Linked DNA regions of Homo sapiens. The protein of the gene in region 1 interacts with the protein of each later gene in a pairwise test. Each region holds a gene or a part of one and is shown in the gene's direction. Other genes may lie near its edges.

The links.
Region 2: the proteins of RNF183 (region 1) and HOXD10 interact in binary tests that used the Homo sapiens proteins (3 or more experiments, as listed by UniProt).
Region 3: the proteins of RNF183 (region 1) and DBH interact in binary tests that used the Homo sapiens proteins (3 or more experiments, as listed by UniProt).

The regions. Positions count from the first base shown.
Region 1 is NC_000009.12:113,296,733-113,300,476, reverse strand, and holds the end of RNF183 (E3 ubiquitin-protein ligase RNF183), read left to right. Parts: exon of another isoform or gene 1-621; intron 622-701; 5' UTR 702-905; exon of another isoform or gene 906-2,255; 5' UTR 2,256-2,292; coding exon 2,293-2,871; 3' UTR 2,872-3,384; downstream 3,385-3,744. UniProt on the Homo sapiens protein: Acts as an E3 ubiquitin ligase catalyzing the covalent attachment of ubiquitin moieties onto substrate proteins. Triggers apoptosis in response to prolonged ER stress by mediating the polyubiquitination and subsequent proteasomal degradation of BCL2L1.
Region 2 is NC_000002.12:176,114,536-176,118,279, forward strand, and holds the start of HOXD10 (homeobox protein Hox-D10), read left to right. Parts: upstream 1-2,242; 5' UTR 2,243-2,298; coding exon 2,299-3,043; intron 3,044-3,744. UniProt on the Homo sapiens protein: Sequence-specific transcription factor which is part of a developmental regulatory system that provides cells with specific positional identities on the anterior-posterior axis.
Region 3 is NC_000009.12:133,634,169-133,637,912, forward strand, and holds the start of DBH (dopamine beta-hydroxylase precursor), read left to right. Parts: upstream 1-2,194; 5' UTR 2,195-2,203; coding exon 2,204-2,542; intron 2,543-3,744. UniProt on the Homo sapiens protein: Catalyzes the hydroxylation of dopamine to noradrenaline (also known as norepinephrine), and is thus vital for regulation of these neurotransmitters.

The DNA.
Region 1 (3,744 bases):
CTTTATTAACAACCATTAAAATTGTGTATTTATTTATTGCCCATTATTCATTAAATGTCTTTTTGCCTCACTACACTCTAAATGTCATGAGGTCAAAGACAATGTCTATTTTGTTCACCATAATACCTTGCACAGCACCTGGGCTAGAGTAAGCACTCAATAATGTCCGAGTGGATGAATGGACTGCAGAATAAAGCACTGGTGCAGAGCCCTGCTAAACTACCCTAGTTTCGCTTAGGGCTCCATCTCCCTCTGCATATCTTCATTTCCTCCTTCCCTGTTTGGAGCAGTGCCAGAGGTCTAGAAGAAAACCAGGAAGCCACAGGTCCGAGAGTATAAGCAGGTTTTGCTTCAGACATCGGCTCAGTCGGGGTAGATGATGTCATATCAGGGGCTCTAGGGAGACTCCCTTCCCCCAGATCCCCTCTTCCACAGTTCCTGGATTTCTACCATGAGTCTTCTGGCCGTGAAGGATTCCTGATCACATGCAAACACTTATTATCTAGCTAGTAACACGCACTGAGTAGGGGGACGGCATGGATGCAGCCTTCTGTCTTTACGAAAACCATGAGTCTGAAGACATGGGTCCCATGTCACCATTAACTAGCTGGGTGACTTTGGGTGAGTCACTTCTTGTCTCTCATCTGCAAAGTGAGTAGTTCAGATGGAGAATTGGTTTTTAAACTTTTTCTTTTCCCCAGCAGATCAACTCTTCAAATTATTCGAATGACCCATATGAGAAACAGAGAAAAGCCAAGTATTTCTGGTTGAAACGGAGAAGCTGGGCTGGAGTGCGCCTCCCTCCAACTCCCCGCTTTAACTCCCTAAGGTTGGTGGGATGGCCAGCTCTAAGATCTCAGAAGGCTGACCAGCTGTGTGCTAAGAACAAAGCAGAAGGCAGCGAGGTTTGTACACGCTGATTGCAGTTACTTAGGCACATTAAAAGATCAGCGGGTGACTGGACTGAATCTGATAGTCGGAGCTCTTAAGCTTCGAAGTAGGTGACTTTCACAGCAACCAAAGTGCTGAGCAGGCAGCCCCTTTGTGCAAGGAGGAGGTTCCAGCCACTTTCGAAGAGAAATGAGGGCCCCAGAGAGAGGAAGCCCAGAAGACTCAGTTACCCTCTTCACATCTACAAAGACGAAATTGCCACCCTACCTTTCCAGACCAGGGACTCCAGGTGTTGAAGGGACTGCCCACAATCTCACAGGTGCTTGGCTTCCAGGTTCAATTAGTTGCCATGCCCTGGGGGGAACTCAGGTCCCCCATCTTCCTCCCCACCCCACCCCCCAGGAAGCTCTCTGGCCTTGGCTCCAAGCAGGTGTGCTCAAGAGGCTGCCGACTGGGCCACCTGGCAGCCCCAGGTGCTGCGTGCATGCTGCCATGGAGACAGGCCCCTGGGTTGGTGGCAAGAAGGCAGTCTCCCAAAGCTTTGCCGATTCAGGGGAGGGAGCAACTGGAGCCTCAGGCCCTCCAGAGTAGTCTGCCTGACCACCCTGGAGCCCACAGAAGCCCAGGTGCGTGCCCTGAAGGTTTCCCAGGACAAAGGGAGGGAGGAGGAGCCAGGGTAGGCAGAGGATGGGGAAGAGGCTCTGGAAGGGGAAGAGGCTCTGGAAGGGGAAGAGGCTCTGGAAGGGCTGATCTGGGGACTGGGGCAGGGAAGCTTCTGCAAGGCTTCCAGGTAAGGAGAAAGGCCTTTCCAGGGGCTTCCTTGCCAGGCCAAGGACTGGGTGAGTAGGATGTGGAGGGTTGGCCCTCTAGCTCAAGGGGAGGAGGGAAAGAGGGCTGGCATTTGTCCCCATAGGAGGGACAGACCAGGGAATTCACAAAACCCATCTCTGCGCTAGTCAGGGATTTGAGGTAGCAGGGAAGGAAACATTTGTCCTGTAGCAAAACCCGCAGACTGCAGCTTACCCCCAGCTCCCTGGATTCAGGGCAGCCAAGGGCACAGACAATGACCATAAGGAGCATTTGCGTCCAGCTCCAAAGCCCAGGGCGACATCTGCTCCAATGCCGGCTCTCTTGGGGGCTCTTGGTAGGGGTGGCCCAGGCCTTCACCTTGACAGAGGGGAGGCTGTAGGAGCATTTGACTCAACTCGATGGGTTAGGAACTGGTGATCAAGAACAAAACGCTTTTGAACCTAAGTAAAACGTGGTGATTACACCTTTCAACACCCACAGAACACTTTGCCCCAGGCCAAGCACAAGGATGGGACTTCATGGCTGTTCCTTTGCTCCTTTCCCCCTTCTGCCAGGACGTCTCCCGCGAAGCCTCCCCGTGTGTGGCTGAGGATGGCTGAGCAGCAGGGCCGGGAGCTTGAGGCTGAGTGCCCCGTCTGCTGGAACCCCTTCAACAACACGTTCCATACCCCCAAAATGCTGGATTGCTGCCACTCCTTCTGCGTGGAATGTCTGGCCCACCTCAGCCTTGTGACTCCAGCCCGGCGCCGCCTGCTGTGCCCACTCTGTCGCCAGCCCACAGTGCTGGCCTCAGGGCAGCCTGTCACTGACTTGCCCACGGACACTGCCATGCTCGCCCTGCTCCGCCTGGAGCCCCACCATGTCATCCTGGAAGGCCATCAGCTGTGCCTCAAGGACCAGCCCAAGAGCCGCTACTTCCTGCGCCAGCCTCAAGTCTACACGCTGGACCTTGGCCCCCAGCCTGGGGGCCAGACTGGGCCGCCCCCAGACACGGCCTCTGCCACCGTGTCTACGCCCATCCTCATCCCCAGCCACCACTCTTTGAGGGAGTGTTTCCGCAACCCTCAGTTCCGCATCTTTGCCTACCTGATGGCCGTCATCCTCAGTGTCACTCTGTTGCTCATATTCTCCATCTTTTGGACCAAGCAGTTCCTTTGGGGTGTGGGGTGAGTGCTGTTCCCAGACAAGAAACCAAACCTTTTTCGGTTGCTGCTGGGTATGGTGACTACGGAGCCTCATTTGGTATTGTCTTCCTTTGTAGTGTTGTTTATTTTACAATCCAGGGATTGTTCAGGCCATGTGTTTGCTTCTGGGAACAATTTTAAAAAAAAACAAAAAAACGAAAAGCTTGAAGGACTGGGAGATGTGGAGCGACCTCCGGGTGTGAGTGTGGCGTCATGGAAGGGCAGAGAAGCGGTTCTGACCACAGAGCTCCACAGCAAGTTGTGCCAAAGGGCTGCACAGTGGTATCCAGGAACCTGACTAGCCCAAATAGCAAGTTGCATTTCTCACTGGAGCTGCTTCAAAATCAGTGCATATTTTTTTGAGTTGCTCTTTTACTATGGGTTGCTAAAAAAAAAAAAAAAATTGGGAAGTGAGCTTCAATTCTGTGGGTAAATGTGTGTTTGTTTCTCTTTGAATGTCTTGCCACTGGTTGCAGTAAAAGTGTTCTGTATTCATTAATTCATTCACTTATTCATTCCACGACCATTTACTGGGCTGGTGCTGAGTGCCAGAACTGAGGGAAGAGAAGAGTAGGATTATCCAGGGGTGGCAGATGGCCCTCACTAGCAGGAAGGGGTGTGCTCATTCAGCTGCTGCTTTTATGAGACCACCTCTTGCCAGCATGTAGTTCATGGAGTGTTAGGTGAAATCTAAAGGTGAACGATGTTAGATCAGTGGACTAGGGGAAGTCTGGGATTTGGAGGAATAGGTCTTTCTTCCTCCCGGCAGATACAGAGGCCCTGATTAGAATGGACATGGGGTAGAGTTCTGATTCCCTTCCCCCAAGCTCCATAATTCCAGCTTCAAGAAGATGGAAAC
Region 2 (3,744 bases), on another chromosome or scaffold:
TTTTTAAAAGAGGTTATTGTTTGGGCGAGAGCACCGAGAGGGAACAGGCGAAAGGGTCCCAAGGCCGAAAATAATGTTCAACGCTTGTTTCAACCAGGCCAGGGGAGATTCCTTTTTGGGAAGAGGGACAAAGGGTTTTTTGGGAAAGGTTTTTGTAAAGGAGCGGGCGGGCTACTAGGTCCCCCAGAATGCTGAGGCGCTTTAATGAACCTCAGGCCCCAAAGAAATGTTCTATTGAGGTGGAAACCCAATTTACCCACAAGTTCAGTCTCTGGGCCTGAAATCCAAGGCCAGCCCATGCCCCAGCGAGTACGGGGAAAAGAGAACACAGATGCCCTCCCGGACTGAGAACTGGTTCATGGTCAGAGTTTCTGGGACCGCTTTAGTTTCTTGGCTGGCAGGAAGGGAACCTGGCAGGCCGAAGGACGGCTCCAAGCCCTGGCCGGCCCCTCACTCAGGGCAAGTCTTTGGAAATCAAGGTTAAAGCTCCCCGCTGCTGCCCCGAGGCCCGGGCTTCCGCAGGGCGGCTCACCCGCCTGCAGCAAGAGAGGGAGGGAGGAAGTTGTTGAAGTTTCTCATAAAACTCTGAGTTTCCATGGTGGTAGTGGTGGTAGTGGTGGTAGTGGTGGTAGTGGTGGTTCTTTAATGAGCCGGACCACAACCCCAGACCATATCCTCTTCATAGAAGTTTCCCTCACCAAAGGAAACAGAGAACTAAGATTCCCACCTCCTTCCCCTCCCTTACCCAAGCAAAGCCTTGTCAAATAATTTCAGAAATTGTCCAAAACTGTAAAACTCAACTTCTGACAAAAGTATAGCTTTTAATATTTGACAATTTGTATTAAAACAAAAATGACCTTCTTGGTTAGCAGCGAAGGGAAAAAAATCAATAGTATAATTTTCAATAATTCATAAAGCGAACGCCATTATGGTAAATTTAACTATTAATCTTATCCTTTACAAAGTCTCGATTGATTTGTTAATAAAGTATCTTCCCGTGTGTGGCAACAGCGGGCATAACTCTTTAAAAACCTTCAGAAGCAAGAAAATTACCAAGTAGCCCAAGAATGTAGATGAGAATTTTATTGATCGCCCTGATTCTTCTTAATATGTATTAATAAATTCCACAACCTTTTGTACCTTGCACTTGTCAGAAACCAGTGCTTTTACAAAATCCATAAAAGGAAAACATTTTTCTTTGCAGAAGAACCAAAATGACACCTTTGCATTTCTCTCTGTCCTTCTTGGCCCAGTCAGTTTTCTAAAACTTCTGGATTCTGAGGGTCAGAGTTTCCCCTTTTCTTAAATTATTTTTTCCTTTCTTCCTTCCTGTTTGCCCTCCATTATCAGGGTGTGGGGAGAGAAACCTCTGTTTAGTTCTCCTACAGGGAGCCCGAGGGACGCTTTCGCGGATAGTGAACTGCTGGCAAAGAATTGTCTCTGGGCTGAAAGCTCCCAGAGGTCCGGCCCCGCAGAGGTCAGGGTGTGGTTCCTCTGAGAGCCGAAGCCTCGTGTAGCCCTCCGGGGCGCATAGGAACCCGGAGCCAGGCAGGAGGACCGAGCGGGAGGACAACGCAGGGACCAACCCATCCATGGGGATCCGGGCCCGGCCAGCTGCTTGGCCTCCCGGCCCTCGCGGCCCTTTTTGCCTCCGCCCTCCTAGAGACACCTTGGCCGCTTCTTAGCCCCAAGGGATCTTTCCTTTGGACCCCTGGGGTGGGATGTCTCAGGGCCCGCGGAATCCGACTCACCTTCCCGCTGGGCTGCCCGGGACTAAATTAACCAGCCTGCGCCCCCACCCGCTTGTCCTGGACCCGGCCCTCTTAAGCGCGTTCTGCCTGGTTGTGTGTGGGGGGAATGCTTCTGTGCGCTGGCGCCAGGGCACTCTGGCTTCCCTCCCCGTCCGTGCGTGTCCACTTGGAGGCCCCTAGAGCTGAGACTTTCCTTCCGCCGGTTGGGCCCAGGGGCCGAAGCGGGGGACGCGAGTGGGGCGGGCTGGCCGAGCGAGCCCTGGAGAGGCGGACAGGAGGGCGGCGGAGAGCGCTGGGCCGGTTGTCTCCAGCGCGCACTATCGCGGGCGCGTAGTAGATGTCGCTGTTGTCCGTGCTTACCCGGCCGGCCGGCCAGGCTCTGGAGCACGTGACCCGAGAGGAGGCTGCGGCTCAAGGCCATTTTCAAATCTCATTGGCTTGGTTGTCATGTGGTCGGCAGAGGCATCCACAATTACACGGGGAATGTTTTCCTAGAGATGTCAGCCTACAAAGGACACAATCTCTCTTCTTCAAATTCTTCCCCAAAATGTCCTTTCCCAACAGCTCTCCTGCTGCTAATACTTTTTTAGTAGATTCCTTGATCAGTGCCTGCAGGAGTGACAGTTTTTATTCCAGCAGCGCCAGCATGTACATGCCACCACCTAGCGCAGACATGGGGACCTATGGAATGCAAACCTGTGGACTGCTCCCGTCTCTGGCCAAAAGAGAAGTGAACCACCAAAATATGGGTATGAATGTGCATCCTTATATACCTCAAGTAGACAGTTGGACAGATCCGAACAGATCTTGTCGAATAGAGCAACCTGTTACACAGCAAGTCCCCACTTGCTCCTTCACCACCAACATTAAGGAAGAATCCAATTGCTGCATGTATTCTGATAAGCGCAACAAACTCATTTCGGCCGAGGTCCCTTCGTACCAGAGGCTGGTCCCTGAGTCTTGTCCCGTTGAGAACCCTGAGGTTCCCGTCCCTGGATATTTTAGACTGAGTCAGACCTACGCCACCGGGAAAACCCAAGAGTACAATAATAGCCCCGAAGGCAGCTCCACTGTCATGCTCCAGCTCAACCCTCGTGGCGCGGCCAAGCCGCAGCTCTCCGCTGCCCAGCTGCAGATGGAAAAGAAGATGAACGAGCCCGTGAGCGGCCAGGAGCCCACCAAAGTCTCCCAGGTGGAGAGCCCCGAGGCCAAAGGCGGCCTTCCCGAAGAGAGGAGCTGCCTGGCTGAGGTCTCCGTGTCCAGTCCCGAAGTGCAGGAGAAGGAAAGCAAAGGTCGGTATGAGCAGAGTTGCCACCCCAGCGGGGCGCGCAGCCCGGGAACCCGGCAGAGAGGGAGTGCCGGGGTGCCCAGCGCCGAGCCGGAGCCCGACTTGGCAGGTGCTGCTCCGCCTGGTTTTAGAGGGGTGATCTCAGCCCTGAGATAGTCCCCGCTTCTCCCCTGCTGCCCTGGCCCTCTCCGCCAGTCCTGGCCCCACGCTGATGGCGCCCGGGCAGAGGAAAAGCTTGCCGGTTTTATTTTTCCTGAGCTAGACCTGAACACAACAAAAGAGCGCAAAGGAGACCTGCGGCTCATAAACACGACCACAGAGCCTCTTTTCTCCTGCTCAGATTTGCAGTTCCAGTTTTGCCTTGAGCCCAATGATCATGTTAAGGTGATCCAGGGCACCGTGTTCGTGTTCAAGTGTATGCACCCCGCATCCTGCGAGCTTGGGGGTGGTGAGGGGAAAGAGATGGCTGGGCTGGTTGGTGCTTGAGTTGGGAAACAGGGCTTACTGCCTTTGCTGGGCTAGGTAACCTTGGCTTTGTTTAGGAAAAGTGCTGCAGTCTTTGCAATCCGTCGGCAAAGAGGGCAAAGGCGGAGGGGGAGAGTGGAACCCGCATTGCCCTCCCTGCAAGGCCAGCCTTAGGGCTGGGCTAAGGCAAAGAGCCAGGGATCTGGCTTTTTGAGAAGGAACCCTCCTCCTCTCCCCCAG
Region 3 (3,744 bases), about 20 Mb from region 1:
GGGCTCTTCACTGCCTCTCGCTCCACAGAACCGCTGGGTTGAAGGAAGCTGGAGGGATCAATTGTCCTTGTCATCCAACTTCCTGTGTCTGTAGATGGGGAGGAGGCGCTGGGTTGGAAAGCGCTTCTCTGAGGACGCCAGCTGCGCATTCAGGAGGGCGGAGCAGGATATGACCCCAGAGCTCTGACCCCGGAGGAGCAGGAGGGGTGCCTGGGGCCTCAATACCCCAGAGGGGAGAGAGGTGCCCCCCTTCCCACAACGCGGGCCCCAGCTGGTGCTCGTTTAGCCTGTTGTCTAGCTGGAGCCACCTGGGTGGCCACCAGGCTGCTGGGAGGGCTCACCCCTGAGCTGGGTGTGCTGTGGAGCCCGTGACCCTCACCTCTGCCTCTGCTGGCTTTTGTTATCCCGTGCTGGGAACACCAGTGCCTGCCCACCCCGGAGGCTCTTCGTATCACCGGCTCGCTGTGGCCGCTCCCCAGTCCCGAGAGTGAATGTCCGGGATGCAGCAGACACCTGCTTACAAGGCACAGGTGAGGAGGTTTTGGAACTAATCTGAGGCATGAAGGTGAGGTGCTCTCAGGCGACGGAGGTGGCATGTCCTGATGGGAAAGCCAGGCCTTCGGAGGCTGAGACCCTTCCCAAGGCTCACCAGAGAACTCCCAAGAGTGTCTTTCCCCTGGCCTGGGAGACAATTTCACACCAATGCCACACTCTATTGCACAGGTGATTATGCACTTGGACCTCACCTGCCTGGGCTGTGGGTGGGGGCGAACGGTGCCCCTCTGGGTGCAATCAGTGGGGAGGGGCTCATGGCCTGAGCTTGGCTTTGCAGGATGGCCTGGCCACTGTGGGGCAGAGAGCACTGCCTGCGAGGGCCAGGGGAAGGCTGGCACTTTCTCCAAATTTCACGTTCGTGCAAAGACACAGTCATTCCTTTCTACAGCGTAGAGCTCAGAGCTGAAGCAGCCTCCAGACCTGCTGTCATGGGTATTTAAGGACCTAAATGTTGCTGTCAGCCTATGACATGAATGTGCCCCTAAGGCTAGATTCTGGGTTTCTCCAGAGAGACGAGAAACAGGAGGGAAAAGGAAGGAAGGGAGGGAGGAGGCTGGGGAGGAGGGACAGCTTCTAGTCCAGCTGGAGAGATCTGTCAACCCAGCCTGGGGGGTGGAGCTGGAGGGATCAAGCAGAATGTCCTGAAGGCAGCTGCCCTCAGTCTACTTGTGGGAGAGGACAGGAGGGAGAGGTGCCGTGGTGAGACTGACCCTCGGGCCCACGGGTGGATGATGGCAAAGGTCCTGTGGCAGGTGTGGGAGAAGCAGGGCTGCGGCCAGCTGCCCTGAGAGGCTTCAAATTCAGGCCAGATCTGCTCTGGGCAAGAGGAAGCTGTGGGTTTGGGAGCTTCAGAGACAGGGGAGCAGGCCTGTCACTCACCCTCTTTTCCTTAAAGGCTGTCACCCCCAGCAGTGCACCCTGCAGCCTGCCTATCCCCTGTGCAGCTCCAGCTCCGTCTGTCCCCAGCAATGCACCCCACGCCCATGTCCCCCACTCCCTATGATGCTCTCGCGCCTTCTGGAGCAGCAGTGGTACCAGCTGGAGGCTGTGGAAAAATTGAGAGGAGACAAAAGTGGGAAGAGCAGGCCGTGGAGAGAGTGTCTAAACACAGGGACTATTTGGAGATTGTCTTATTTTTGGTTTGAAATGGGCCCACCTGCTAGTATTGTACAAACGGCTCTGCTCGCTAGGCCAGGCCTGCAGTGGCTACGGGCCTATCCTTCACTGGTCAGCCTGGAGCAGCTCCTCGGACCTCAGTCTGCTCATCCGTGGGTAGAGGCGACGCAGACCCCATCCCACTGGGGACTGGGCCAGACAGCCTGTGAGGCAGTCAGCTGGTGCCTGGCCAGAGGGTGTCTGAAAGGCCTCTTGGCTGCAGGGTGCATCTGCTTTTGGGACAGCTCTTCAGAGCCATCTCAGAAGGGACAGCATCCGCCTGTCTACTTCAACTCCCACTGATGACGTCCATGTGTCATTAGTGCCAATTAGAGGAGGGCAGCAGGCTGAGTGCTTGGCCTGGGGCGCAAGCTTGTGGGAGGGAAAATTGGATTCCCCGCTAGACAAATGTGATTACCCGTGCTGCCTGGACCCACCCCATTCAGGACCAGGGCATAAATGGCCAGGTGGGACCAGAGAGCTCACCCCAGCCATGCCCGCCCTCAGTCGCTGGGCCAGCCTGCCCGGCCCCAGCATGCGGGAGGCAGCCTTCATGTACAGCACAGCAGTGGCCATCTTCCTGGTCATCCTGGTGGCCGCACTGCAGGGCTCGGCTCCCCGTGAGAGCCCCCTCCCCTATCACATCCCCCTGGACCCGGAGGGGTCCCTGGAGCTCTCATGGAATGTCAGCTACACCCAGGAGGCCATCCATTTCCAGCTCCTGGTGCGGAGGCTCAAGGCTGGCGTCCTGTTTGGGATGTCCGACCGTGGCGAGCTTGAGAACGCAGATCTCGTGGTGCTCTGGACCGATGGGGACACTGCCTATTTTGCGGTGAGTCTCTCCTCCCTGCCAGCTCTCCAAACCCTTCCTGACCCGGCACCCCATCTGGCCGTCTTTCTGCACTCACCCTCCTTAACCCAGAAAGTTCTTCTGTCACCTGTCAGTGTTTGAGTTGACTCTGCTCTGAGCCAAGTCTGCACCCCGAGCTTGGGCATCATGGGGATCTCAGTTTGAGGACAAAATAGGAAAGACATGCTTTCCATGGTCCTTGACTGCCCGCCCCAAATCATGGGACCCAGTAATCCCAAGGAATGGAACTATACACAGAGGACGCACACACCACACACACTCGTGCCGCTCCACACCCCACACGCGCATGAGCACAGACCCCACGACCCTCGGCCCTGTAAACAATGCCTAGTACCACGTCCCCAGAGCACACATGCCCACTGATGTGGGCCAGGTGGTGGCGCGTGGCTGGGCACAGCATGAGGCCTGCACACCCATGGGATCCAGCCTGACCTACTGTGCTTGTACCCGTGGACCAACTGAGCAGGTGCAGACACCCTGCCCCTACCCATAGGTGTTGAACAAGCCCCACAGGGCTCAGCCAAAACTGTTAGGATGGGCTCTTGACTCCTTTCCGTCCAAATTTACCTCCACTCTTGTTTCACAGGGTGGAGAAAGGGGAAAAGTTTCCCTTCAAACTGGAGGGGACTTTAGGCCCTTCCACAAGCTGCAGGGGGTCCCCGAAGTGGGCGAGCCCACCGCCTACAATGGGTCCTGCTCCAGCCTTCCTTTCCACATGGGACTGGCCACCAGGGCTTCTTTGTGGATGAAACCCAACTCTCTCCACAGAAACACACAAAGGAGTGACAAAAAAGTTTTATTTCTGAAGTCAGGAGGTGCCTGCTTTATCTGGGAGTGCCGAGCTGGAGCGGGGGAGCTGTGTCTGTGCGGAGCGGCCGGCTCCAGCTCTGCATCTTGGTCTCACCATGGGCTGGTGGGGCGGAGAGTCCCTCTCTGCCTTTTTGGGTGTTGTGAATTCATGAGGGCAGATGGTGGCTGCTGTTTCTGGAGCTGAGCTTGCCCCCTCCAATTCCCAAGACTCGGCCAGGAGGCACTTGCCTGTGTCGCTAGTGAGGCTTAGGGCCACCCAGGTAGGGTGAGTGGAGCTGCCTGGGAAGGGCCCTGCTCTGACCCATAGGGCTGCACAGATTCCTGTGCACAAAGACACTCTGTGGCTCAGGTTC